5 linked regions of the Homo sapiens genome follow. The gene in region 2 interacts genetically with the main gene of each other region. Each region holds a gene or a part of one and is shown on either strand. Other genes may lie near its edges.

The links.
Region 1: changes in ZCCHC9 (region 2) and CYB5B together harm fitness more than expected from each alone (negative genetic interaction), as found in Homo sapiens cells (one large-scale study listed by BioGRID).
Region 3: changes in ZCCHC9 (region 2) and UTP4 together harm fitness more than expected from each alone (negative genetic interaction), as found in Homo sapiens cells (one large-scale study listed by BioGRID).
Region 4: changes in ZCCHC9 (region 2) and DHX37 together harm fitness more than expected from each alone (negative genetic interaction), as found in Homo sapiens cells (one large-scale study listed by BioGRID).
Region 5: changes in ZCCHC9 (region 2) and GEMIN2 together harm fitness less than expected from each alone (positive genetic interaction), as found in Homo sapiens cells (one large-scale study listed by BioGRID).

The regions. Positions count from the first base shown.
Region 1 is NC_000016.10:69,455,023-69,459,745, reverse strand, and holds part of CYB5B (cytochrome b5 type B), read right to left. Parts: intron 654-4,723; coding exon 625-653; intron 1-624. UniProt on the Homo sapiens protein: Cytochrome b5 is a membrane-bound hemoprotein functioning as an electron carrier for several membrane-bound oxygenases.
Region 2 is NC_000005.10:81,304,551-81,308,448, forward strand, and holds part of ZCCHC9 (zinc finger CCHC domain-containing protein 9), read left to right. Parts: intron 1-190; 5' UTR 191-207; coding exon 208-591; intron 592-3,898. UniProt on the Homo sapiens protein: May down-regulate transcription mediated by NF-kappa-B and the serum response element.
Region 3 is NC_000016.10:69,156,060-69,160,782, forward strand, and holds part of UTP4 (U3 small nucleolar RNA-associated protein 4 homolog), read left to right. Parts: intron 1-1,024; coding exon 1,025-1,181; intron 1,182-4,296; coding exon 4,297-4,403; intron 4,404-4,723. UniProt on the Homo sapiens protein: Ribosome biogenesis factor. Involved in nucleolar processing of pre-18S ribosomal RNA. Part of the small subunit (SSU) processome, first precursor of the small eukaryotic ribosomal subunit.
Region 4 is NC_000012.12:124,950,569-124,955,291, reverse strand, and holds part of DHX37 (probable ATP-dependent RNA helicase DHX37), read left to right. Parts: intron 1-1,080; coding exon 1,081-1,205; intron 1,206-1,295; coding exon 1,296-1,412; intron 1,413-2,321; coding exon of another isoform or gene 2,322-2,341; exon of another isoform or gene 2,342-2,478; intron 2,479-2,721; coding exon 2,722-2,894; intron 2,895-4,487; coding exon 4,488-4,602; coding exon of another isoform or gene 4,603-4,639; intron 4,640-4,723. UniProt on the Homo sapiens protein: ATP-binding RNA helicase that plays a role in maturation of the small ribosomal subunit in ribosome biogenesis. Required for the release of the U3 snoRNP from pre-ribosomal particles.
Region 5 is NC_000014.9:39,120,028-39,124,750, forward strand, and holds part of GEMIN2 (gem-associated protein 2), read left to right. Parts: intron 1-2,402; coding exon 2,403-2,516; intron 2,517-4,723. UniProt on the Homo sapiens protein: The SMN complex catalyzes the assembly of small nuclear ribonucleoproteins (snRNPs), the building blocks of the spliceosome, and thereby plays an important role in the splicing of cellular pre-mRNAs.

The sequences.
Region 1 (4,723 bases), on a different chromosome or scaffold from region 2:
AAAAATAGAATGGCTAGCTCTATATAATCTCCACAAAGATACTGTACAAGCCAAGGATTCCACAGTCATTTTAGATAGAGGCACTTAAGGTAAGGCAATTTATAACTTTCAGAGCTAATACTAATGAATTACTAATATTAATGCCAAGGAATATATTGTAAATAAACCTGAGAAAACCCAAATTCCTAAATATGACCGTAGTATTTTTTTCTCCTGCAATATGTAATAATAGCACTTACCTTACAGAGTGGTTGTGAGAAGTAAATGCGATTAAGTTTTAAGTAGAATCATGTAGCTGGGTTGAACTTCGGGACTAAAGGCTGACCCAATAGTAGCTACCTGTCCATGCATCCTGGCCTCTTACTGAGTGTGATTCCAATTTATGTCACAATAAGATTAAAAAATGACTCAAGGCATGAAACTTTTAGATTATTCAAAATGGCTGAAACTGTAAAAGTTAATTTTTCTAATGTCAAGGAACAACTGAATTTGCAATGATTTGGGCCAAAAAAGAATTAGTTGTCAAACTGCACTCATAAGTTATGTTACATACATATACTTATGGAAGAGTCTCTTGCCAGACATTACCTTGAACGTATGGAAAGCTGTTAAGGAGATACTAACCTTTTGCATGTATCATTTTTTGAAGGGTCCTGAAATAAAAAAAAAAAAAAATTCAAAAATAACAAACAAAAAGAAAGAAGATTAACATAGCACATGTACATTTTCTTGATCAAGCTATGTCAACCCTGTAACTGATACCAGAACTTCATCTTTCATGCATTTTGGTGTTTACAAATATATAAGCAATGGATAGACTGGGAATTTTATTTCTGATAACATACTGGCACTTCACTAGGTTCCTTCCTAGTGAAGAATCACTAATGAAAGCATAGAAATGACCTAAACTTTTTTAGATGTTAAAAAATGTTAATGATACAAACTATATTGAAATGGACTACTCTGTGGTCATGATGATGTACCTGGTTCAGCTGGGCTTGCCACTGGCAATAGCTAACATCACACTTTCTAAAAACATTTTTTAAAGTCCAAAAAGCTCTTCTAACATGTAGATCAACTGTGAAATGCTCTAGATCATACAGATGATTGCTTGTAGATCACAAAAATATACTGGTTCACTCCTTGAAATCATAATAATTATGACAGGAGACCTTAGAATTGATTTCACAATGAAAAGAGAAAAAATGGAGTCAAGGGAAAGAAAATGATAAAATAATCTTAAAAAACAAATCTTGGCAATAAAAAGTACTGAAGTATTGATATATGCTACAAACTTCACAGCATTATCCTAAGTGAAAGAAAGCAGACACAAAAGACTACATATTATATAAATCTGTTTACATAAAATGTTCACAACAGGACAATCAATAGAGTTAGAAGTAGATTAGTAGTGGTTGCCTAGGGCTGGTGTGAGGAGGACGAGTTGTGGGGAAATGGAAAACGACTGCTAATGAATATGGGGTTTCTTCTTGGAGTGAGGAAATTGTTCTAAAATAGACTGCACAGTTCTGTAAATACACTAAAAACCATTGATTTGTACATTTTAAATAGGTAAACTGTATGGTATGTGAATTGTATCACGATAAAGCTGTTATTACAATTTTTTTACTCAATTCAAGTATCAAACGAGTTATTGATTCCATTAACCAGCTGTATAGTACAAAAGGCCTGCTAACTTACTGCCAGAGGACAATAACCCTTTAGCATAGGTTGCTGCTGCCCAAAATACCATCTTTGCAAAATGTAGAAGTATATCAGGGTATGAACATGGAATATTAGCTCTGCTTAACCACCGTTTTCAATAATCTCCAAGAATTTCCAGAAACCAATCACATTGGCCCCAATATACTTTAGAGCAGTCCATGAAATGAGTTTTAATTTCATATATCCAAAACACTGTCATGCAAATGAATACATGCCCCAAACCTGAAAGAAATTAGTCTGTAGGCAAGAAAAATGGCAAACGAAAGGTTTTAAAGAAACCATATTAACATACTTCTATACTTCTTTAAGACTTTAATGATTATCATTATCTGGGACATTTCAACTAGTCTAGTAAGGATCCGATTAATTAAAATGAGTTACAAGTCAATCTTTGAAAAATACAACAAATGTTACTATCTACAGATTCGGAAGGTAGGAGTGGTAGCGATGGTAGTATGTGCATCAAGTTAATTTATAATGCTGCCTTTTAAAATAAATATTCCACTACAGTAACCGAGAAATAATTGAATTCCATCAAGAAAATGTTCATGGTCTTTTATGCTTTAGCTACATAAATACCAATGATTTATAGACAAAAAATGTAGTTACTATTTTTAAAAGGGATAATTTGAAAGGCTTATATGAGAGCATCACAGCATAATATATGTATTATGATGTTTAATCTATAATTAGAGTAAAAATCATATACTTCATATAAATGGATTCTCTAAATTTCAAAGCTTTTAGCCTCTTTTACAATCAAAAGCCCTGGATCTCTGCTAAGTAGGGTGAGCCTTAGAAAAAGGTAATAAGCAACTGAAGAAGAAAGAGAACAAAGACAGCCAAAACCGTACTATGCTGAAATGTAAAAATTTCTAAACAATAAATAACTTAAAACATATGGTGTTCTTTGAACTAAGTACTGCAAAATGTGCCTGTTTTAAGATCAATCCATCCCTGGGGACGCAAAAAAAAGACCAACCTGTCTAACCCATTAAAGGAAAGAGAAGAGAAAGAGGCATACACTCCCTTTAGGATACTGATAGCCAAGTAGATGCAAACCATAGTGACCCCACTTTTAATCAAATACATAATAATCAAAGAGATGTTGAAGGCACAGCTCTTAGCAGCCAGGACTCTCAGCCAAATTTGGAAATAAACCAAATCGCTTGTTTTTAAACTGAAATGAAAAAAGTTCTATTAACACATAACCTCCCTTCACCTCCACCCTTCCCCTAGGCACAGTTCCCCCCAGTCTTCATTTCCACAGCTAAGCACTAGACTAAAGCTAATGGATGCTTAAGTGAAAAGCTTACAGTTTATAGTTGACTTTAATTTATCCCTTCAGGTATTGAGGCATATCTAGCTGGTTATGTCCATGCCCAGATTTTAATGCTCTCAATCTTTGGCCTGGAAAGTAATAATTGCAATACTATGATTTTAGTTACAAGTGGTGAATCAAATCCAAAGTTCTTCCAGCATAACCCCTACCAAGCAATTAATATGCATGCTTCTTTTTCTTCGAAAAGCTTAGAATACACTGGCAAACAACAAAATTGCTGTGAGTTTTGGTATTATAGGTTCTAAAACAAATTGCTGTTAAGTCTACTCTGACTTTAGCTCAAAACTCATGGAAATTAACTGTTTAAATAAAACTGGTTCCTCAAGTTCAAGGTTCATTAAGGCTTTAATTCCCCACTAAAATAAATAAGTAGGGCTGGGCACCTTGGTTCACATCTGGTGAATCCCAACACTGGGAAGGCTGAGGCAGGAGGATCACCTGAGCCCAGGAGTTCAAGGCTATAGTGAGCTAGGATTGTGCCACTGTACTCCAGCCTGGAGGACAGATCAAGACCCTGTCTCAAAAATAAATAAATATATTTATATACATATAAACACAAAAGACGGACTTTTTAGGGAAAAAGGAAATATTTTGTAATACCTGAATAGAATATTTATAAAGCTGCTCAAAATTAAAATTATATCTAATATCTTCAAGCCCAATGTTATAAATCAGTTTCCTCGTTTGTAAAACGAAAAGCTCAGATCAATGTGAATTCTAAAGTCATATTCAATTATCTCAACACAATTTTCTGAGCCAAGGACATTGTGGTGAAACCTAGAGCAGCAGGCTTCTAAAGGGTAGAGAGAAGAAAACACCATTCTCTTATGTCTAGGAAGACTGAAGAAGCACTACCGTAAGTAGATTTTTCTCTCTTCCACCAGCTACATAGAGGAGTAATTTCCCAGATCCTTGTCGCACCATAAGCACTGACCCAATTTGATAAGATTAAGAGAATGACAAAAAGGCCAGTCGCGGTGGCTCATGCCTGTAATCCCAGGCATGAATTACATGAGAGGCCAAGGTGGGCGGATCACGAGGTCAGGAGATCAAGATCATCCTGGCCAACATGGTGAAACCCCATCTCTACTAAAAATACAAAAATTAGCTGGGCATGGCAGTGTGTGCCTGTAATCCCAGCTACTCAGGAGGCTGAGGCAGAAGAATCGCTTGAACCCGGGAGGCAGAGGTTGCAGTGAGCCGAGATCACACCGTTGCACTCCAGCCTGGTGACAAGAGTGAGATTTCGTCCCCCCACCAAAAAAAAAAAAAAAAAAAGAGAACAACAAAGAAATGTCTCAACTGGCAACCACATAGAAAGGATGTGGGGGTCAATGGGTGTGGATTTCACGATGAACTTTGTTTATGAGAAAACATGAGAGAAGAGCACACACTTAAGGAATGGAGTGTACTTTGTCATCAGGACATAAATGTAGGAAAGAATGAACCAGAATCATGATTATGACGCATTACGACAGACAGGGAAGCCGGGTGCAGTGGCTCATGCCTATAATCCCAGCACTTGGGGAGGCCGAGACAGGCGGATCATGAGGTCAGGAGCTCGAGACCATCCTGGCTAACAGGGTGAAACCCCATCTCTACTAAAACTACAAAAAAATTAGCTGGGTGTGGTGGCACACACCTGTAGTCCCAGCT
Region 2 (3,898 bases):
AGCATGTCTATGCAGCATATTATAGCATTAAATATGTATACAGATATCTAACTGAAATAAAAAGTGTTTTAATAATTAAAAGTTTAACATATGGGCATATGTGACATATAGTGATATAGCATGTCTCTTTAGTTTTGTTGTTTTTGTTGTTGATGGCTAACCACCCATGCTTGTCTTAAAAATTGATAAGGTACCACTGATGAAATTATGACCAGGTGGGCCCGAGTTAGTACCACATATAACAAGAGACCCTTGCCTGCAACATCATGGGAGGACATGAAGAAGGGATCCTTTGAGGGAACAAGCCAAAACCTACCAAAGCGTAAACAACTTGAAGCCAATAGGCTATCCCTCAAAAATGATGCACCCCAAGCAAAACATAAAAAGAACAAAAAGAAAAAAGAGTACTTAAATGAAGATGTGAATGGATTCATGGAATACCTAAGACAGAATTCACAGATGGTTCACAATGGGCAAATTATAGCAACAGACAGTGAGGAAGTAAGGGAAGAAATTGCAGTTGCTTTAAAGAAAGACAGTCGACGGGAAGGAAGAAGATTAAAAAGACAAGCGGCAAAGAAAAATGCAATGGTGAGAGCATCACTTCTACCATGTTATTTACTTTATTTAGCTGGAAACTATTCTTATATTCACACACATATATACCTTAGCCAGCTCTGGTTACCATTATGTCCCAGATTTATAGAGCATCGTTTTAAGGACTAGTACTTTTTTAGCACATATATGCTAGGCACATGATGTACTGGTTAATTATTACAACAACACAGCAAAGGTGATGGCATATATTCCCATATTATGGATGGCAAACACTGAAGTGCAGATAGATTAAATAACCTGTGGAAGCCACTTAGCTAGTAGCAGAGGTGACATTCAAACCCAGCCTGACTTCAAAACCTACGTTATAGACCAGATGTGGTGGCCCATGCCCGTGATCCCAGCACTTTAGGAAGCTGAGGCGGGAGGATCACTTGAGCCCAGGAATTAAAGACGAGCCAGGGCCACATAGGGAGACGCCATGTCTACCAAAAAAAAAAAAAAAAATTAGCCAGGTGTGGTGGTACACACCTGTGATCCCAGCTACTACTGCCAGCTGAGGCAGGAGGATTGGGCCTGGGAGGTCGAGGCTACAGTGAACCATGTGATCAACCGCTGCATTTCAGTCTGGGTGACAAAACGAGAGTTCGTCCTCCAAAAAAACCAAAACCTATCCTCACCTTCCAATAGCCCCTTTTTCAAATTAGCATTGAGAAAATGTCAAAATTATGAAGAAGATGAAGTAGAACAGGTTAAATGTGTGTGGGTCCCTATTACTTGGAAAGGATGTTCTTTATCTATGAAATACTGAAGCACAGGAAAGAGATACATAGGAGTCATACTAGTTAGAGCAGAGTAATAGCAGAATTGAAAGTCCTTGAGACTCCCTAGTCATTGCTTCCTCCCTCCCCCATATTACATTCAGAAGAATGCTGGGGGCAGCAGGTTTCTTTCTCTAATGCCTAGCCCTAGATTTTAAAGTATGTCAGGCAAAGGGGATGAAATACTTGGTATAATTATTTCCCTTCTCTAAGTGAGTTTCCCAAGCCTCCTAGTACACCACTTCATAAGAATGAGGACTTGTTGCTAGTTATTATACTTTTATTTTTTATTAGTATTACTATATGTAGAGCACTGTTTGCACCATTGCAGGCTTAAAATGTTAACAGCCTCTATAAATGTGTCTTTTGGCTGTTTGCAAGATTAGTCTATGCATTGTTATATTTAAAGATAGTTATTTAGAGATAATACTGATGAAACATTCCTTATGGATAAATTTGAATAGAAAGGATAACATTTCTGTTGGTATCAGGATAGAGTTTTGTGTAAGTTAACGATTTTTAAATATTTTAAGTCATTTTAGTTTAGTTGACATAGGCGGTATGGTGAATCACATACCATTTGAAAACATTTACTGTTATGACCGCTTAAGAAAAGCATTATGTTTGTAATTAAGTGGGGAAGGATATTGTTTTTTAAAAAGGGGAGTGCTATATAAATAGTATATGGCTTGTTATGACCTGTTGTTAAATTTACTTCCTTGGTATTTTTTTAATACCTTATACTAAGCATCGGTCCTTAAATGCTAATAAAATGATATGCTATAGAAATTTACAATCAGTGCTTCACAATCCCATCTACATTAAACTTAAGGACCATTCAAAAATGTTGTATTAGGTGATGATTAGGTTTTAAAAGAGAAGGCAGTGAACTAAGGCAGTAGTCTCAGCTTAGTAGAGACCACCTTGACTTCACCAAGAAGCCAAGACTTCTTATGGTGGTGATGCAGGTTTTAGCAGTAGCTTTTCCTGCATTTGTATAATAAATACAGCTTCTTTTTTTTGGACCAGCTCATTCTAAATGTACAAGTTACTGAAGAATTTAAAGGGACTCATTCTTTTTCAATATTTTATTAAGTAGGAAAAAAAGGACAGTTGCAAAATAAATGTTTTATTTTGCTGGTTGAATTTGCTTTTTAAAAAAACCTGTGCTTATTTTGAAAAAACATAATTAAATGACTATTTATTATCCAAGAAATATGTATATCTTTTTCCAGTTTAAATAAAATAGTTTAAATATCTGCCATCTTTGATTATGGTTGATGTTCTCATTTATTGCAGCAAAAAAATTCTTCAAATTTCTGTAAACAACTAACCATTGCTCAGTTTTATGTTGGAGCCAAATAATTCATCTTGGAATAAATTATTCCTTTAAAATGTATTGTGCATATATTCTAAAAATGAAACCTATTTCTGAATATTAAAGAATGTGTATGGCTGGGTGTGGTGGCTCATGCCTGTAATCCCAGCACTTTGGGAGGCTGAGGCAGGTGCATCAGGAGATCGAGACCATCCTGGCCAACATGATGAAATCCCATCTCTACTAAAAAATACCAAAATTAGCTGGGCGTGGTGGTGCGTGCTTGTAATCCCAGCTACTTGGGAGGCTGAGGCAGGAGAATCATTTGAACCTGGGAGACGGAGGTTGCAGTGAGCCGAGATCACGCCACTGCACTCCAGCCTGGTGACAGCGAGATTCTGTCTCAAAAAACAAAAAAGTATTTAGGGTAAAAAACAAGGATATACTTTTTGCTATGAAATATATCTTATGGCCAGGCGTGGTGGCTCATGCCTGTAATCCCAGCACTTTGGGAGGCCGAGGCGGGTGGATCACCTGAGGTCAGGAGTTCGAGACCAGCCTGGCCAACATGGTGAAACCCCGTCTCCACTAAAAGTACAAAAATTAGCCAGGTGGTGGTACACACCTGTAATCCCAGCTACTTGGGAGGCTGAGGCAGGAGAATCACTTGAACCCAGGAGGCAAAGTTTTCAGTGAGCTGAGATTGGGCCACTGCACTCCAGCCTGGGTGATGGAGTAAGACTCCGTCTCAAAAAAAAAAAAAAAAAAAAAAAAAAAAATCTATCTATCTATCTATCTATCTATCTATCTATCTTATGGTTTGAATCATAATTTGAATGGAAATGTCTGACCCAAATTCATTCAATTATGTGAACTTTAAAAGAAATATTAATTTTTTAAAATTTTGAGTACATAATTATATACAAATACAAATTTTGAGTGACAGTTTTTATAGCCACTGTCCATTTCCTATAGAAAATGCCATTTTTCTACTGCAGACATTCCAGTTAATAAAATGAATAGTCCATATTTGCTCAATTCATTTAAGCAATTGCCGTCTACAAAGCCACATATATAACATTGTTCCTGAGATTTATGGATTTATTGATTGAGGTTTTCAAAAGCAATGAAACCCTCTGATGGAAAGGATATCTCGTTGTTTAGGAACGTATGAAAGCTTTTTTCTACAAATATTGAGATTTCA
Region 3 (4,723 bases), on a different chromosome or scaffold from region 2:
GTGGAAATCAACTGGATGTGAATCCTTGCTCAGTTAAAAACTATTTGGAGATTTGGAGAAGGCTGTTATGAAACAGTGTTTTATTTCTTTCTTTCTTTTTTTTTTTTTTTTTGAGACGGAGTTTTGCTCTTGTCACCCAGGCTGTAGTGCAATGGCACAGTCTTGGCCCACTGCAACCTCCGCCTCTTGGGTTCAAGCGATTCCTGTGCTTCAGTCTCCCGAGTACCTGGGATTACAAGCACCCACCACCACACCTGGCTGATTTTTGTATTTTTAGTAGAGATGGAGTTTCACCACCCGTTGGCCATGCTGGTCCTGAACTCCTGACCTCAAGTGATTCACCCGCCTCAGCCTCCCAAAGTGCTGGGTGCTGGCATTACAGGCGTGAGCCACCGCACCCAGCCTTTTTTTTTTTTTTGACCGAGTTTCACTCTTGTCACCCAGGCTGGAGTGCAATGGCACCACCTCAGCTCACCGCAATCTCTGCCTCTCGGGTTCAAGCCATTCTCCTGCCTCAGCCTCCCGAGTAGCTGGGATTACAGGTGCCCACCACCAGGCCTGGCTACTTTTTGTATTTTTAGTAGAGATGGGGTTTCACCACGTTGGCCAGGCTGTCCTGAACTCCTGACCTCAGGTGATCCACCCCCTCAGCCTCCCAAAGTGCTGGGATCACAGGCATGAGACACTGCGCCCGGCCCACACCCAGCCTTTATTTCCATTTTGAAATTTTGAGGTATGTTCTTAGAGGGATAGGGTAATGCCCTACAGGCAATAAAATTAAAGCTTTTCTGTTTAGTGGTTTCACGTGCGACTTAGTTATTTCCTTGATAGAGAAGTGAATATTTAGTAAAGAGATGAAAGGGGGATGTATAGATTACTGGAGAGAAACCAGTGTTCTGTGCCGAGTCAGTTGGCTTACTTAGAGACAGGAAGCATTAATGTACCTTAAGCCTAGCTGTGATTGTTTCTGATGGGCTGTAGGTCTCCCTTCTCTCACTGGCTTTTATTATTGGTTCACCCAAAGGTTTCCAAAATGCCAGCATTCCTTCGCTCTGCCCTTCAGATTTTGTTTTCTGAAGATTCAACAAAGCTCTTTGTAGCATCAAATCAAGGAGCTCTGCATATTGTTCAGCTGTCAGGAGGAAGCTTCAAGCACCTGCATGCTTTCCAGCCTCAGTCAGGTGGGAATCTGGTAACTGGCCATGGGGAGACTTGTCGTGTCTAAGATGTAACTTTTTTGCTTTTAAGCCTCCATGTCGGGGGTTCCCTCATGTTCCTCCTACCCTGCAGATACACTCACTCACATGTTTGCTGTTTCAAGTAGGAGGAGATAGCTGGCAGATGAAGACTCTCGATGAGATCTGCAATGTTCTTCACACCTACTCTTTTCTCACTGGGTTTTTGATTCCTTATTTGGGGCCAGAGAAATTTCATCATCCTTAGTTTGTTAGCAGAACAAGAAGAAAGTTAAAGTCATTTGCAATCCTGACACCCAGAAATAGCTACCATTAATATTTTGGTATTTTCTAATATGTATTTGTATATAAGTATTTTGTGGGCATGTTGCCTTTTTTGGTTGTTTGTTCATAAAAAGGTACAATCATAGATGGCTGCCACCTCGACCTCTTGGGCTCAAGTTATCTTCCCATCTCAGCATCCTGAGTAGCTGGGACTATAGACACTCACCACTATGCCCAGCTAATTTTTTCATTTTTTTTGTAGAGACGGGGTCTCATTATGTTGACAAAGTTGGTCTTGAACTCCTGGGGTCAAGTGATCCTCCCATCCTGCCCTCCCAGCTGAGATTATAGGCATGAGCCACTGTGCCTGGCCCAAAAGTATTCTTATACATACAGTTTAATTACCTGTGTTCATATAATGTTCCTGAGAATTTTTCTGTTTTCATTGAGAATGTGAGTATTAATGAATGAGTGTGGCTATGTAGCTAGCTATGGCTAACTGTTAAGGACTTGGACTCAGTTTCCAGATTAAGCTGGTAGTTGTTTTGATACTTCCTATGGGCCTTTCACCTCTCCCTTGTCCTGGATTTTAGCTGCTGCTTCACTGTCATTTACACTCCCATCAGCCTGGAAAGTCAACTCTTTTTTTTTTTTTTTTTTTTTTTTTTTTTTGAGATGGCCTCACTCTGTTGCCGAGGCTGGAGTGCAGTGGTGCGATCATGGCTCACTGCAGCCTCACCCTCCCCAGGCTCAGAAAATCCTTCCACCTCAGCCTCCCAAGTACACAGGAGCATACCACCACACCCAGCTAAGTTTTGTATTTTTGTAGAGACAGGGTTTCACCATGTTGCCCATCCTGGTCTTAAACTCCTGGGCTGAAGCAATCCTCCTGCCTCAGCCTCCCAAAGTGCTAGGATTACAGGTGTGAGTCACCATGCCTAGTGAAAGTCAACTCTTTTATCTTCAACTCTCACTGTTCATAAGCTGATCCAGAAGCCTACAGGAGAAGAAACCCACAAGTTAGGGGTCAGATAAATCAAACTATTTATTATCTATATATGTTTTTATTACAAAACTTAGGCTATTTATCTTATATCTAGCTCTCCTTGAGATTCGACTCTACATTATGTATATGACTTTATTTTTTCCACTTCTCTCATCTCACTTCCCCTTGTAGTCAAAATGGTTTCTTCACAGCTCTCAAACCTGCATATTCTACTCCTCGTCACTTAGCTTGCACTGTTCCCCATCCTTTTTTCCTCATCCCCACCCATCCTTTGGCAGCTGGGTTATGCTTGTTATAAAGCCATGTTATCGTTTGGGGGCGTTACATGCAGCACGCATTTTGGCATAGAGCATCACTGTCCAATTTTTATCCCACACTAGTTGTCGTGTTGCCAGATTGGTTTAAAGTCTCTAGATGACAAAGATGGCTCAGACGTGCCCATCCTCCCTTAGTGCTAAATACACAGCAGGCATCCAATAAATTAAAGATATGCTTCAAGTCTATTGAACTTGCTGTTTGTCCGTAACTTTTTTTTTTATTATTAATTTATTTATTTTTGAGATAGAATTTCAAAAGACAGAGTTTCTTGTGCCCAGGCTGGAGTGCATTGGTGCCATCTCGGCTCACTGCAACCTTTGCCTCCCAGGTTCAAGTGATTCTCCTGCCTCAGCCTCCCTAGTAGCTGGGATTACAGGCACCCACAACCACGCCCAGCTATTTTTTTTTTGTACTCTTAGTAGAGATGGGGTTTCACCATCTTGGCCAGGCTGGTCTTGAACTCCTGACCTCAGGTAATCCACCTACCTCTGCCTCCCAAAGTGCTGGGATTACAGGTGTGAGCTACCACGCCTGGCCTGTCCATAATTTTGGCTTAAAAAAAATTTAGGGGCCGGGCACAGTGGCTCACACCTCCCAGCACTTTTGGAGGCCGAGGTGGGCAGATCATAAGGTCAAGAGATCGAGACCATGCTGACCAAAATGGTGAAACCCCATCTCTACTAAATATACAAAAATTAGCTGGGTGTGGTGGTGCACGCCTGTAGTCCCAGCTACTTGGGAGGCTGAGGCAGGAGAATGGCTTGAACCCGAGAGGCAGAGGTTGCAGTGAGCCGAGATTGCACCACTGCACTCCAGCCTGACAACAGAGTGAGACTCCGTCTAAAAAAAGAAAAAAGAAAGAGGCCAGGCACGGTGGCTCACGCCTGTAATCCCAGCACTTTGGGAGGCCAAGGTGGGCGGATCATCTGAGGTCAGGAGTTCAAGACCAGCCCAGCCAACATGGTGAAACCCCATCTCTACTAAAAATACAAAAATTAGCCAGGCATGGTGGTGGGTGCCTGTAATCCCAGCTAGTCAGGAGGCTGAGGCGGGTGAATCACTTGAATTTGGGAGTTGGAGGTTGGAGTGAGCGGATCCGCCACTGCACTCCAGCCCGAGTGACAGAGCTAGACTCCATCTCAAAAAAAAAAAAACAAAAAACAGAAAAAAAACCATTTGGTAGGAAAGGAGTTTGAAACAATTAAAGTATATATTTTAGTGGCAGATGCTGCCGTCATTCTCTATTCCTGTAGTAAGCAGTGTCTTAGGCCTGAGGAAGTAATAACTTCTGTTTTATCTCTCTGGACCTTCTTTACAGGCGGGATGGTTAAATAAGTAGATGAAAAAAGTAGAAACATTAACATCTAGAAGTAATTTGCACAGTGATCAGCAAATTATCCTGGCAGTGATTTAAAACTCTAATGGTCTCCTTGGCTTTTGCCATCATCTCCAGGGCAGGTCTGGCTGTGGACACTGTGTGAATTCAGAGATGTAACTGTTTTGTCCTCACAGGAACAGTGGAGGCCATGTGTCTTTTGGCAGTCAGTCCAGATGGGAATTGGCTAGCTGCATCAGGTACCAGTGCTGGAGTCCATGTCTACAACGTAAAACAGCTAAAGGTGAGCATAGGGTTTCATGGCAGCAGTTTGAATCATTGTACAGGAGCCAGTTCACCCTGCAGTTACAAGATTCAAGGCAGATTGGCATGACCTGGAAATTTATTAGACTTTTTTCTTTTTATTTTCTTTTCTTTTCTTTTTTTTTTTTTTTTGAGACAAAGTCTTACTCTGTCACCCAGGCTAGAGTGCAGTGGCGCGATCTCGGCTCACTGCAACCTCAGCCTCCCGGGTTCAAATGATTCTCCTGTCTCAGCCTCCTGAGTAGCTGGGATTACAGGTGTGTGCCTCCACACCTGGCTAATTTTTGTATTTTAATAGAG
Region 4 (4,723 bases), on a different chromosome or scaffold from region 2:
CTCCTCTGCCTACTTGGGCCCTCAGTGGATCAGATGTGGCCCACACCCACATTGGGGGAGGGCAGTAGCTTTATGCCAGTCACCAATTCAAAGAAACACCCAGAAATAAGGCTTAATTAGCTATCTGGGCATCCCTTTGCCCAGTCAAGTGGACACATAATTAACCATTACATGTAAGGTCTTGAAAACCAGGTGTCTTGGCCTCTGCCCAGATCTCCTGGTCCCAGCATCTCTAAGACTCCCACGTGATGCTAGTGTCAAGGCTCTGTAGCGTGGTGACTGAGAGCTCAGGTATGGTTCGAATCTCTCTCTGCCATTCTGAGCTGTGTGACCTTAGGCAAGTGACTGTACCACTCTGAGCTTCATTTTCTCCATCTGGAAAATGGGGATGATGATAATGATAATAATTGGATTGTTGGTAGAATTAAATGAGTTAACACAAGCAAAGTGCTTTGAGCCGTGCCTGACACATATGTTAAGTGTTAGTATTATTTTCAGGTTTGGAAGCCACTGGCATCATTCATTTATTCAGTCCACCCTTGGCAGCTATTTAAGCAGTTTGCAGAGTTTTTTATTACCTAAAAATGGTGCAGTGGCCGGGCACGGTGGCTCATGCCTGTAATCCCAGCACTTTGGGAGGCCGAGACGGGCGGATCACGAAGTCAGGAGATCGAGACCATTCTGGCTAACACGGTGAAACTCTGTCTCTACTAAACAAAAAATGCAAAAACTTAGCCGGGCCTGGTGGTGGGCACCTGTAGTCCCAGCTACTCGGGAGGCTGAGTCAGGAGAATGGTGTGAACCCGGAAGGCGGAACTTGCAGTGAACCGAGATCACACCACACCACTGCACTGGGCGACAGAGCGAGACTCTGTCTCAAAAAAAAGAAAAAAAAAAGAACAACAGTGCAGCGGTGGCTGCCAATGGTGAATTTTGAGCTGGACCTTAATACCTTAATTACATTCATCAGTGACCCCACAAGGCCTCTGAGCCTGTCCCGATGAATAAAGGAGTTCCCCCCGCTGAGGCCCTGAGCGCAGCCGAGGCCCCAGCCCAGACAGTATGTATGTGTGTTTGCAGACCAGCGGCCAGTGACGAGGAGCTCACCAGGCTGAAGAGCAAGCGGGCCCGGGTGGCCCAGATGAAGAGGACCTGGGCAGGGCAGGGGGCTTCTCTGAAGCTCGGCGACCTCATGGTGCTGCTGGGTTTGTGCCCTGCCCGTTGGAGGGTGGCGGGAGGGTCACCCAGGTCTGGGATGGGTCAGAGAGAGAGCATGCCCCCTCTTCGTTCCCCAGGCGCCGTGGGAGCCTGTGAGTATGCCAGCTGCACACCCCAGTTTTGCGAAGCCAACGGGCTGCGGTACAAAGCCATGATGGAGATCCGGCGCCTGCGGGGCCAGCTGACCACCGCAGGTACGGCCCCGTGCCGGCACGCCGCTGCACCCGGCGGGCAACCTGACCTGGGCACTTGAAATGTTTAAAAAAGTGATCCATAGAGTCCACGTTTGCAAACTTGCTACGCACCAAAATGTATTTATAACCCTAAATCAATACTTGGGGAGCTTTTCCAGGAACAAGGGAATGTGCACATGAGCAGGGCACTAACAGATTCGAGCTGCCAGCCTGCACCCTCCCCCACCAGGTCGTCGCTCGGTTTCACCTTTTCCCTGGCGATACCCCCTGCCATTTTCCATCACCGCTGTGGCCTGGACCCCTCTTCCCTCCCACATGTCCCCCAGACCCTTCTCATGCAGAAGGATGAGGCCTTGCCCTGGACTCTACCTCAGCTCAGCAGCACAAATACTTCCTGCCACCAACACCCAGGGAAGCTTGAGAGGAAGGAAATGTCCTCCAACATATGGCAAGAGGACGATGCGTAGAGAGGGCAGCGTGGACACTGGGTCTCTTCTGGGCAGGCCACGTTCTTGCACCCAAGGCTAGTGGAGAATTTGCCTTCCATTTAAGCAGATCCCAAGGTTTGATGCCAGAATTGATGGCTCTCTTCCGGCCGATCCTTCTCCCAGCGCCAGGTGCATGGTGGTGGCCCTGTCACCATGCTCTGTGTCCTTCTGGCTGTGGCTTTCCAGAGCAGCCCCATTCCAGGTGCAGCAGCTTAGAATTGCAGTCAGCCTCCAGACAGTGCTGGTTACAGTGGCTTGGTGACATTAGACCTTTATTGTTGCAAGGAAGAGAAGTCACTTGAGTCAGCAGCCCAGGGCGTTTCTCTGCTGCCATCCTCCTGCCATTCGCTGTGCCTTCCATCCTAAGGTCACCTCTTGGGCTGAGGAGGTAGTTGGAGGCTTAGTCACCTCTGCCTTCCAGGCAAGAGAAGGGAAGGATGAGGCCAGGGCACCCGCCGGCTGTCCTGTTCCCGTATTGAACGTTCCCAGGAATTCCAGCCGCAACTTCCTTCTTCACATCATGGACCAGAACTGAGTCTGAGGCCACCTGGGTGTTAGGGGAGGGCTGTCTCCTCGAAGAATGCTCTGCTGCCCAGGCAGGATGTGGGGCTTTGTCCCAAGGGAGAAGGAGGGAATGGGGGGGCGGCTGCAATCCTGCCTGCTGGGGGCTTTGGGTCCTGCTGGTGGCCTCTGGGGAGGGGTTGAGACAAGCAGGTGGCTGAGGCTAGAGCACTGAGCATGGTTGGGACTTTCTAGGAGGTCAGGGCAGAGCTGGCTCCGGGCCTTGCCACCACCGACCTCACTCTTGGTTCTCCCCTCAGTCAATGCCGTGTGCCCCGAGGCTGAGCTCTTCGTGGATCCCAAGATGCAGCCGCCCACCGAGAGCCAGGTGACCTACCTGCGACAGATCGTGACGGCAGGCCTGGGGGACCACTTGGCCCGCAGGGTCCAGAGCGAGGAGATGCTGGAGGACAAGTGGAGGAACGCCTACAAGGTGCGGCCCCCACCGCCTCCCTGCCCGGGTAGCTTGGGGCACCTGGTGAGGGGCAGGCGGGCTGGGCCCTCAGGGTCTGGGGAGGCTTGTTCCCTCTCAGCTGTGGGTCCCCACTGAGGAACAAGTGGGGCTTGCAGTAGAATCACATCTTCCTTGGTTAGTTTCTCCCAACTTTTTTTTTTTAATAACAGTTTAGTGGAGATAAAATTCACACAGCATTTAAACTCTTTTGGGGTTTTTTGTGTTTTCTAGAAACAAGGTCTCGCTCTGTTGCCCAGGATAGAGTGCAGTGGCACAATCATAGCTCACTGCAGCCTCGAATTCCCAGGCACAAATAACCTTCTCGCCACAGCCTCCTGAGTAGTTGGGACTGCAGGGGGCACACCACCACCTCCGACTAATTTTGTTGTTGTTGTTTTCTTTTTTGAGACAGAGCCTCACTCTGTTGCCCAGATTAGAGTATAGTGGTGCGAACTCAGCTCACTGCAACCTCCACCTCCTGGGTTCCAGCAATTTTCCTGCCTCAGCCTCCCAAATAGCTAGGATTACAGGTGTGTGCCACCATGCCCAGCTAATTTTTGTATTTTTAGTAGAGAAGGGGTTTCACCATTTTGGCCAGGCTGGTCTTGAACTCCTGGCCTCAAGTGATCTGCCCACCTCGGCCTCCCAAAACGCTGGGCTTACAAGCAGTGTTACCCAGGCTAGTCTTGAACTCCTGGCCTCTAGGAATCCTTCCACCTTGGCCTCCCAAAGTGTTAGGATGACAAGTGTGACCCACTGCATCTGGCCTGCATTTAAACCCATTTAAAGTGTTCAATTCAGTGGGTTTTAGTATTTTCACAGAGTTTTGCAACCATTATCATAGTTAACTTTAGAACATTTTTATTACCCAACAAAGAAACCCCACATATGTAAGCTGTGAGTCCCCAGTTCCCCGTCACCCCCGTTTTCATGATCCTGCTTTCCATCTGTGGATCTGCCTGTTCTGGACATTTGGCATGAGTGGAATCTTAACATACATGGCTTTTCATGTCTGGCCTCTTGCACTTAGTGTGATGCTTTCAAGCCCCATCCACGCCATGGCAGGTGTCGGTGCTTCCTTTTTTTTTTTTTTTTGAGAAGGAGTTTTGCTCTTATTGCCCAAGCCGGAGTGCAATGGCGTGATCTCAGCTCACTGCAACCTCCACCTCCCGGGTTCAAGCAATTCTCCTGCCTCAGCCTCCCAAGTAGCTGGGATTACAGGTGTGTGCCACCATGCCCAGTTAATTTTTTGTATTTTTAGTAGAAATGGGGTTTCACCAACATGGTGAAACCAGCCAGGCTGGTCTCGAACTCTTGACCTCAGATGATCCACCCTCCTCGGCCTCCCAGAGTGTTGGGATTACAGGCGTGAGCCATTGCACCCGGCACTTCCTTCCTTTTCACGGCTGGATCAGACTCCAGCGTGTGGATGGGCCGCATTTCCCGGCAGATGGAGCACTCTCCCACTTTTGCGGCTGGAGTGGATAATCAGATTCTTCTCCTGGGTTGAAAGTATGCGGAGCCCCTGGGCATGGGTTCTTCCCTGACCACATCACTCTCCATTCTCTGCAGACCCCTCTCCTCGACGACCCTGTCTTCATCCACCCCAGCTCCGTCCTTTTCAAAGAGCTCCCCGAGTTTGTGGTCTACCAGGAAATCGTGGAGACCACTAAGATGTACATGAAAGGTGCCGAGGCCTGCGGACAGCCCCTTGTCCCCCGATGGTGACGCTAATGGGGGTGTGGCTGGGACCCTGGGGCAGAGGCATGGCAGCCCCTCCCACGGAGGGTGCCGCTGTAACCCCAGCT
Region 5 (4,723 bases), on a different chromosome or scaffold from region 2:
TAGCGGAAGGCCTTTTGGGTGCATGCCCACTAACTAAAAAAGAAGCCACATCAGTAACATTATGACTTGATAAAATTTTGTCAAAAATGGAAATGACCTAACATAATTGATTCAATAAACTATGGTCCATCAGAACAGTGGAATATTATGTAGCAATTTTAAGTGTTTGTCATGGCAAATGCAAACATCATATAAGTAATAAAATGAAAATGTTTTAAAGTACACTCTGAGCCAGGCACAGTGGCTCATGCCTATAATCCCAGCACTTTGGGAGGCTGAGGTGGGCAGATCACCTGAGCTCAGGAGTTCGAGACCAGCCTGGGCAACATGGCAAAACCCTGTCTCTATTTAAATTATTTAAAAAATAAAGTACACTGTGATGGCAACTGTGTGAAAACATAAACATTTGTTTATTAATTGATCCAATAATTTAAGCATGTGCTATATTTAATAATCAGGATATTCAGTACTAACTGAAACAGAAACAGCTTCTGACCTAATAGAGTGTTAGGAAAAGGTAGATAACCTTATTCCAAGACAATAGGGTTTAACTTTGTAGTGGTCTCATGTTCATCGTGAGGTTTTATTTTATTTTATTTTATTTTATTTATTTTTTTGAGATGGAGTTTTGCTCTTGTTGCCCAGTCTGGAGTGCAGTGGCACAATCTTGGCTCACTGCAACCTCTGTCTCTTGGATTCAAGCAATTCTCCTGCCTCAGCCTCCCAAGTAGCTGGGATTACAGGTGCCTGCCACCACACCCAGCTAATTTTTGTATTTTTAGTAGAGACGGGGTTTCACCATATTTCCAGGCTAGTCTCGAACTCCTGACCTCAGGTGATTCATCCTAAGGATTTAATGAAAGCTACTTATCCCTAGGGGGAAAATGCACCTATGCAAAGTAATATACAAGGTGATATGTACAAACAAAGGTTATTTTGTTAAGGAGGTTATATTGAGCTGAATGCTTCTCCCAAATAGTCCTGCGTCCTGCTTTTTCTGTCTGGCAGCATGAGTAGATCTGTTTCTTCTTTGACTGGACAACCCTTCAAATATGTGAAATATGTAATCATGTCTCTTTACATGGGATAAATATCCTTCATTCTATTAAGTGTTCTTGGTGCATTTTTTCCCCCATACTTATTTCTGTCTTTATCATCCTCTTTTGGACACACCATTGTCTGTCAGTGTCCACTAAAGTCTTGTCCAAACTAAACACATCTTGGCTGGGCACAGTGGCTCACACTTGTAATCCCAGCACTTTGGGAAGCCAAAGCAGAAGAATTGCTTGAGGCCAGGAGTTTGAGACCAGCCTGGGCAACATAGTGAGACAACTATCTCTACAAAAAAAATTTAAAAATTATCAGGCATGGTGGCACATGCCTGTAGTCCCAGCTACTCAAGAGGCTGAGGTGGCAGAATTATTTGAGCCCGAGATTCAGGCTGCAATGAACTGTAATCACACCTCTGCACTCCAACTTGGGCGACAGAGCAAGACCCTGTCTCAAAAAATGTAATAATAAGGAAAAACAACATGTCCCACATATTGTGTAGCCACTTAGGCACTATGTTTGTCAGGGCTGCCATAACAGACTAGGTGGATTAAACAACAGAAATGTATTTATTTTCTCAGTCTTGAAGGCTGAAAGTCAAAGAACAAGGTGGCAGCAAGGTTGGTCTCTTTTTGTTTGTTTGTTTGTTTTTTGAGGCAGAGTTTCGCTCTTGTTGCCCAGGCTAGAGTGCAATGACGCAATCTCTGCTCACTGCAGCCTCCGCCTCCCAGGCTCGAGTGATTCTCCTGCCTCAGCCTCTGGGTAGCTGGGATTACAGGTGTGCACCACCACATCCGGCTAATTTTTTTTTTTTTTGTATTTTTAGTAGAGGTGGGGTTTTGCCATGTTGGCCAGGCTGGTCTTGAACTCCTGACTTCATGTGATCGCCTGCCTCGGCCTCCCAAAGTGCTGGGATTACAGGCGTGAACCACCGCACCCGGCCTAAGGTTGGTCTCTTCTGAGGCTTTTCTCCTTGGCTTGCATAGGGCCACCTTCTCCCTGTTTTCTCACGTGGTCTTTCCTCTGTGTGTGGGAGTCCCTGGTGTCTCTTTGTGAATCCAAATTTCCTCTTATAAGGACACTAGTAAGATTGGATTACGGCTCACCCTAATGGCCTCAATTTAAATTAATCACTTCTTTAAAGGCCCTGTCTCCAAATACAGTCACATTCTGAGGTACTGGAGTTTAAGGTTTTAACATACAAATTTGGGGGCAGAGATTCTCCCCATAACTGGCTCCGTATCTTTGGGTTGCGGTAATGGGAATATGGAAGGACTTAACTTCTTTTTTTTTACTGTTCAGTGTAAAAATTAATACACAGGAATAAATCAGTTTTTTTTTTTTTCTTTTAGCCAAAATCTGAAGATGAAGAAGGCTGGAAGAAATTTTGTCTGGGTGAAAAGTTATGTGCTGACGGGGCTGTTGGACCAGCCACAAATGAAAGTCCTGGAATAGATTATGTACAAGTAAGGGCTGTGTGGATAAACAGAACAAAAAGCATTTTAATTTTGGTGCACCACTTAATATAAGGGGTCAGCAAACTCTACCCTGGGCCAAGTCCAGTTCATGGCCTTTTTTATATCCATGAGCTAAGGATTGTTTTTAGGTTTTGAAAGAGTAAAAAAGAAACAAATAATATGTGGCTGAGACTTTATGTGGCCTGCAAAGCCTAAAATATTTGCTGTCTGACTCTTGATAGAAAATGTTTGCCAACCCAGACTTAGTTTATTAGCTCTTCAACCTAACAAAACAGCTTAGTTTCTGAAACAATTTACTGTGACTTTTTTTAGTTTGGCTTCATATCCCTTATGTTTGGCTTGGTAATCATTTTATGAGTTGGATAAGATTCATAGTTTTTTTAAATGATGAGGCATCAGGCAAACAGTGTTATGAGTAGCCAGGGAAAAAATGGAAATCGACACAATTAGATGCTTTAAAATGCATAATCACATCTATCACTTCATGGGCCTGTAAAAAATAAATCACATATTCTAAAGATGAAATGTTGAGGATATCTTTAAAATTCATGTGGCTGTAATCATAAGTTATGTAGACAACTCCTTGTCCTTCAGGATTTACCTGCCCCCAAGTTTGCAGGTGTTCCTTGAGAATCCAGTGCATGCCTCTGCATTAGCGCTTACTCCCTATAGCATGTAGTTCTTTTCAGTTCAACAGGTATTTATTATTTGCTATATGGTGCCACATTGTGTTTTTCACATTTAAAACTAATTTTTCCTAAAAATGTAAAAAGCCCCAAGAATCAATAAAAAGACCAAGAATCACCCCTCCCCTGCCCAAGAAAAAATAGCCAAAGGATATAGATACCTCACAGAAAGGAAATAAAATTATTCTTATATGACAAGATGCCAAAAATCACTTGTAATAGAAGTATAACATAACTATGCCAAGGTGCTATTTTTCAGGTAACATATTGGCCAAGAAAGTTTGATACACCATATTGACAAGAGCTGGGGAAACAAGCACTCTTAGACGTGGTACAGGAGTATAAATAGACTCAAATCTTAGGGAAGTTAATTTGGTACTCTTTCTATATAACCAATTGATCTTTTGGATGATATCCTTAACATATGCTACATTTCAAAAATAGCTATATATATATATATATATATATTTTTTTTTTTTTTTTTTTTTTTTTTTTTTGAGACAGGGTCTTCTTCCGTCATCCAGGCTGGAGTGCAGTAGTGCACTCATAGCTCATTACAGCTTCAACCTCCTGGGCTCAAGCAATCCTCCCACGTCAGCCTTCAACATACCAGGGGCAGCAGGCACCCACCACCACACCCAGCTAATTTTTAAATTTTTTGTAGCGATAAGTTTTTTAATTTTTTAAAAAAATTTTTTTGTAGAGAGAAGTTTTCACCATGTTGCAAGGTTGGCCTGAAACTCCTGGGCTCAGGCAATCCTCCTGCTGGGATTATAGGCATGAGCTATCATGGCTAGCCAAAAATGGTTTTTAATTTATAAAGAATTAAAACTTACTTATTTAGCTTATTTTCAGAGAATACATACAAGTAAAATACACCATGTTAAAAAAAACCCTTAAGGAAGTAAGCGTTTAATGTATATCCTCTTAAGTTTCTCACAAATCAGTGGTATTTTCATAATTAGCAATCACAGCCTCAGACTCCAAAGTAGACTTTTAAAAATTGAATCAAATTAGGTTTTAAAAATGTCATTCTAATTCAAGTGTCCTTAATTCTTGAAAATATTAGCTTTAGCTGAAGATTTTGAAATGGTGTATACAACATATTAATGTCATCTTATCAATGTTACAGTTTTATTGGATATACTTAATAAGTTAGTTTTTTCAAGTACTATCATGTAAAAAATTTTTAGTCTTTAACATTTTACTTACTAAAATCATACTTTATTTAAAAATTTACAAATTCAGACCAGGTGAGGTGGCTCATGCCTGTAATCACAGCACTTTGGGAGGCTCTGGCAGGTAGATCACTTGAGCTCAGGAGTTCCAGACCAACCTGGGCAACATGGCAAAACCTCATCTCTACCAAAAATACAAAAAAATTAGCTGGGCGTGTTGACATGCACCTGTGGTCCTAGCTACTCGTGAGGCTGAGGTGGGAGCATCACCTGAGCCCAGGAAGCAGAGGTTGCAGTGAGCCAAGATCGCGCCACTACACTCCAGCCTGGG